Regions from separate parts of the Homo sapiens genome. Here region 2 is linked to region 1. The links come from fine-mapping of genetic effects on plasma protein levels. Region 1 holds a variant in brackets. A gene starts in the other region. All regions are shown on their forward strands.

Region 1 (2,906 bases):
ATTTCAAGTGATTCACCCACCTCAGCCTCCCAAACTGTCAGGCCTCTGAGCCCAAGCTAAGCCATCATATCCCCTGTGACCTGCACGTATACATCCAGATGGCCTGAAGCAACTGAAGATCCACAAAAGAAGCGAAAATAGCCTTAACTGATGACATTCCACCATTGTGATTTGTTTCTGCCCCATCCTAACAGATCAATGTATTTTGTAATCTCCCCCACCCTTAAGAAGGTTCTTTGTAATTCTCCCCACCCTTAAGAAGGTTCTTTGTAATCTCCCCCACCCTTAAGAAGGTTCTTTGTAATTCTCCCCACCCTTGAGAATGTACTTTGTGAGATCCACCCCCTGCCCGCAAAACATTGTTCCGCGGAGCCTCTCCCAAAACCTATAAGAATTAAAGATAATCCCACCACCCTTTGCTGACTCTCTTTTCGGACTCAGCCCGCCTGCACCCAGGTGAAATAAACAGTCTTGTTGCTCACGCAAAGCTTGTTTGGTGGTCTCTTCACACGGATGCGCGTGACACAAAGTGCTGGGGTTACAGGCCTGAGCCACCACACCTGGCCACCCCCAATCTTTAAGAATATTCTGGCCGGGCGCGGTGGCTCATGCCTGTAATCCCAGCACTTTGGGAGGCTAAGGCGGGCGGATCAAGAGGTCAGGAGATCGAGACCATCCTGGCTAACATGGTGAAACCCCGTCTCTACTAAAATACAAAAAATTAGCCGGGCATGGTGGCGGGCGCCTGTAGTCCCAGCTACTTGGGAGGCTGAGGCAGCAGAATGGCGTGAACCTGGGAGGCGGAGCTTGCAGTGAGCCGAGATCGTGCCACTGCACTCCAGCCTGGGCGACAGAGCGTGACTCCGTCCCCCCCCCAAAAAAGAAAGAATATTCTGTATGTAGTTTTTTTGTTTTGTTTCTGACAGACGCAAACGCACTCTTCTAGTAATGACTAAAGACTTCTTCGTTTAATTCACCAATGAACTAATCTGACAATTTATGTAACAAATAAATTCCTATAAACATAAGCTCCCTTGCCCCTCTCCAGTGGCACAATCTCTGATTTGCCATCCTGGTTGCAACCTTCATTACTAAGTAAACGCTTACGTAAACCTTAATAATGAGATTCGGGCAATATGATTAAATATTGGTTTATTTGAGTGCAAAGTTTGAGGATGGCGACCCGGTAGGACACAGACTCCAAAAGATGGGGGTCAGTGCTTCGAAAGGGAGAAGTTTGAGGGTCGTTTACACAGGCAGGGTCTGGGAAGCTTAACAGGATGTCAACATTTTCCATAGAAGGTTAACGCATAGCAATTTGATTGGTTCAAGGCAGTGTTTCTTTTTGGGAAGGGTCTATTTAACATTCCACATTAAGGATGTAATAGTCAAGCGGTCATTTATCTTATTCAATGCGTATTTTATCTCAGATGCCATCTGGTCTGAGCTGGGAACAAGAAAATAAGGGAGTTAATCTATAACAAAAGGTCGGCAATTAAGAGGTCGTGCTTCGTGATCTGGTCTCCAAAGTCAACTTTCCTCAGGGACTTTCAGAATCCCCAAATAGACTATCCACTTTCTTTCACACTTATTTGCCTCTAACTTGTTGATTT[CTT/C]TTTTTTTTTTCTGTTTTTTAAGGGTTAACAATCTCTTGGGTGCACTCTGACTTCCATGCGCTTTATAGAAAAAATTGGTCCTGAGGCCAGCAGCAACAGTCGGTCTCAGGAACTTGTTAGAAATGCACATTTTTCAGCCCCACCCCAAACCTACTGAATCAGCAGTTTTGCTGGTGGTTCTCAATCTCTCTTTAACGTGCCCTCTGGGTGCTGCGGATGCACGCTGAAGGTAGAAGATCGCTGCAGGAGATTTCCGCGTCGGGCAGATGAAAGCGCTCTGCAAGCCCGGGTGTTATCTGCGGGCCGGGTCCGCGGCTTCTCTGGTGGCACTAGGACCGCGGCGGCGCGGCCCTCGCAGCCACCGCCTCGGGCGTGAGGCGGAGCGTAGCTGTTCCTGGATCCTGGGCCTGGCTCCTCGACCCGCCCCTGGAGGCGGACCCCACTTGACTTAAACTCTGGGGCCCGGGAGGCCGCCGGTTTTCTCCCCGCTTGCCGGGGTGGTCCTCTTCCCTTTGTCGGTAAGTGTGAGACGAGCACCCCGAGGTCCCTCCGCCTTCCGGGGTCCGGGCGGGGCGGGGGCCGGGAGCCGGGAGCCAGAGGCACTCGCGGTCCGGGCCTGCGCGCGGCGCAGAGCGCTTTTGTTCTGCGGCAAAGACGCAGTCGCGGGCGGCCCCGGAACCCGGGCCTCGGGCCCCGCCGGCTCGCGCGTCCCGCCGTCCGCCCACCGGAGCTGGGCCGGGCCGCCGCGCTTGCTTCTGCCCGCCGCACCGGGGCCGGCCCTGGGCCTCCGCGGATGCCGAGCCTTGCACCGGAGGGCGGGCCTCGCTGGCTGTTTTCCCTCATTGCCTGGCTCTGCGCGGTAGAGGTCGCGAGTGGCGAAGGCTAGGACGCATTTTGTCGAACTGCGAGGCGCGGCTGGTGAGGCGGGTGGGTATGAGAGCTGCTTATGTTTTTAAGGCTTTCCTGTCGCTGGAGTGAAAAAGAAAAATCTTTTTTTTTTTTTGCTATTTCCCGAGGGTTCTCCTCCTCCCCGGCCCTCTTAAGCCGAAGCCTCCTGGAACAGAATTGCTGTACTGGCATCTATCTCCAAGTGGTCCGCGAACGCTTCTGCGCCGGCGATGGTTTCTGTTCCTCAGCAATAGTTCCTTGAGGCATTTTTAAATGCACAAACGCATACCCATCTTAGGTGTTCTCGAGGGACACGGATTCCCTAAGCAAACGTCCTTAGGGTCCTGAGTTCAGCAGCAAACTTTCGGGGAATCATTTCCGTGAAAACAATTTATTTGTAGT
Region 2 (2,906 bases), not on the chromosome of region 1:
ATTCCCCAGAATCTGAGCTCCAGTGCTCCCTGAAGTACTTCCTGGGCAGGCACAGGGGACAGGGAGTGGGCCTGGGCAACAATAGCACCTTGAGAGGTAACAGAGAGGGGAGGATATACTGGCACCTGTGTGGGGTCATGGAGCCCAATCCAGACGTATGAGTAGCTGTTACCAATGCTCTTCACCAGGGAGGACACGAAGGATCCCTCAGCCCCACTGAGCACAGACACCAGGTTTCCAGAGGGCCGCTTCTGGCAGGCCAGCTTTGAGGGCAACAAAGAGAATGAGAGGGAGCCTGAGACCTGCTGAGGGAGGGCAGGGCAAAGGTAGGTGGGAGGAGGACTGTGTGAAAGATAAACGTGTTCATCCTCATTCCCAAGGAACTCTCCTGAATGGAGACCCTCCTCCCCCTGAGACCGGTCACCTCCAACACCACATCTAACCACTCACATCTGCATCTGTCCAGGATTTTGGTGACAAAAACAAGGCATAGCAGTGGGAGCCATAGGCCTTGGAGCCTTTGGGACAGCGGATCCGTGCAGAGGGCAGTTCCCTCTGGGGTTCTTCACCTGAGGTGGAAGAAGAGGGGGGAGGGTAAAATGAAGAGTGGGGCTTGGGGTGGGAGATGACCTTGGGGAATACCTAGGAATGTCCTTGGGGAGGAAGACCACATTCCTGACACCCCTTCATCTTCCCTTATGTTTTCAGAAATTCTTTATCTCAAAATAGCCGTAGTAAATGGAGCACCATCCAGTCTCTTATTACCCTTTCCCCTTATTCAACCATTCAATACTCTCCTCACTCTGGGCTGTCTCTACATTGGGTCCTCCAATCATTGTCCCTCCCCACATCTCATTACTGACCCTCCAGTGTATATTAGAGTCCACTTTCCCACCAGTGTATATTAGAGTCCACTGACTAAATGGAAGCCATCTCATTCCACTGTTAGTGGACCACCATGGAGCCTCCCACTGCAAGTTAACCTGAAGGAAGGAGAGATGATGCAAGAACTGCAGGCAGGTTCATTAGACACCACGTCATTACCTCACATGACACACAGGAGCCTTCCTCCTCTTGTTAGCTCTGAGGATTCATAGGGAACCCAGTGCTAGAGGCAAAGCAATCTCACCTTGAACCTGAGACAGCAGCATGAGGCAGGAAAGCAGCATCCAAGATACACTGGGCAGGGCCATGGGAGGCAGCATAGTGTCTGCGACTTGAGGAGGCAATCAGGAGTCACTAAAGAAAGCGTGGTCAGTGGGAGAACACACAGATACCCCACTGCCTCATGTCATTTTCCTTCTCTAGTCCCCTAGGACTAAAGTGATCTTGGTCACATCCATCATCTTCTACAGTTCTGAATGAGTTGTGAATCTGTGTACTCTCCCATCCCCGAGCCCTCCCAGGACACCCTTGCTGAGTCTCAGAGTTCCTGTGCTCCCTGAGGAAGGGACCCTCCCATGTATTCTCCTGTGTCATGTGCAGTAGCTCCTCCCTGGGTCTCATCTTCTCTCAGCTCCCACTTACCTCTCTGGTGGGATATGGTATGGTTTGTCTGGTCAGGAAAGAGTGGGATTTTATAAGAGGATCTGGGGGAGGGACATTGGAGTGAAGAGTGACAATGAGTAGGCAGGACAGGGGTCATGGGGTGGGGTTGGCATGGACTCTTCCTGGCAAAGACTGGGGATTTTCCCAGATGTTGCCTCTTTCCTGTTGGCAGGCCAACACTTTCCCTAGGAAGAGGTGAAGTTTGCTTTTTCCTCTGCATCCTCCTTGTCAAAGGCCTGTGGCACCAAATGTGATATGAAATCTTCTAATGTGGACATCTGAAAGAGGAGTTCCTCTGGTGGGTTTCTTAAGAACCCACTTCTGGAGGCAAACCTATGTATTTCTTATTACCTTGCCTAGTAAGATTAAATAAATGTTAGGTGTTAAGTGAAGATTTACGGGAATTATAAGTATCATGGACAGTTGAGGACATAGATGGTACTGAAGCTAAGAGTAGGAGTGAGGGTTCAGGGCCATTATGCAAGCATGATAGCTAATTTTGATGAAACTTCAGAATTGTCTGACAAGTCAATACATGAGCCACAATCTTACAGAAAATCAGGTGAATGGACTTGTCTTTCCAGTCTTCAGCAAGAAAGAGCTTCCCCAGTGGAGAATGACAATGGCAATGTGATAGAATAAGAGGTAATGAAGGAAAACAAGACATAAGAAGGACTACAGTCAAATAATGAGGATCAAAGAAGAATGAATAATAGTTAAAGAAGGGAAGAGCAGCCATTGTGTAAAATCATAGGTCAGTTGGCCAGGTGCTGTGGCTCAGGTCTATAATCCCAGCACTTTGAGAGGCTGAGGTGGGAGGATCACCTGAAGCAAGGAGTTCAAGAGCAGCCTGGGCAACACATTAAGACCCTATCTCTACAATTTATATTTTAATTTAAGCCAGTTGCGGTGGTGTGTGCTTGTGGTCCTAGCTACTCAGCAGGCTGAGGTAGGAGGACCTTCAGTTGAACCCAGGAGTTCAAGGCTGCAGTAAGTTATGATCATCCCACTGCACTCCAGCTTAGGCAACAGAGTGAGAGCCTATCTCTAAATTTTTGTTTTGTGATGTTGTAAACATAATTCTGAATTGCATGTAAGTCTCTATTACATCAAAATGCTCACTACTTGTAGGTTGCTCATGAGCTTCCTTGCTGGACTGCCATTTGGCTGTACATTAAAAGCCCTTTTCATTGCATTCTTACTGGGCAAATGGTCAGCTTCATATGGGTATACTGGGAGAAGTTCTTTTAGTCATGTTTATTTTTGAGTTAGCAGTTTGGTGCCTCTGACAAGCATACTACATTGCCCATACACTGGTTCAGGTTCAGTTTGGCCAGTCCAGGAAAAAGTTAGGCTGG

Direction of the effects. Alleles are on the strand shown, and positions count from the first base shown. The strength of an association depends on the size of the effect and on how common the allele is.
For the plasma level of the protein whose gene starts at base 1,553 in region 2, allele C in region 1 goes with a higher level than allele CTT (weak association).

The links. PIP is the chance, under the fine-mapping model, that this variant and not a neighbour inherited with it causes the effect. The UK Biobank Pharma Proteomics Project read protein levels with antibody pairs (Olink). The fine-mapping took linkage between variants from a reference panel, not from the people measured, so its PIPs are less certain.
Region 2: it holds the start of REG3A, and the variant in region 1 is fine-mapped to the plasma level of the REG3A protein (UK Biobank, PIP above 0.99).

What each region holds. Positions count from the first base shown.
Region 1 is chr12:31,957,358-31,960,263 of GRCh38, forward strand. It overlaps RESF1 (retroelement silencing factor 1), which reads left to right and starts at 2,058. Exons shown (of 6, transcript NM_018169.4): 1 at 2,058-2,134. LOC105369725 (a long non-coding RNA gene) reads right to left here and starts at 1,947. Exons shown (of 2, transcript XR_931503.2): 1 at 1,771-1,947; 2 at 1,136-1,447. RefSeq lists enhancers at 1-179, 183-976 and a silencer at 2,029-2,368. The variant CTT/C (reference allele first, on the strand shown) is at 1,614.
Region 2 is chr2:79,158,201-79,161,106 of GRCh38, forward strand. It overlaps REG3A (regenerating family member 3 alpha), which reads right to left and starts at 1,553. Exons shown (of 6, transcript NM_002580.3): 1 at 1,528-1,553; 2 at 1,130-1,239; 3 at 451-569; 4 at 126-263. The coding sequence starts at 1,205.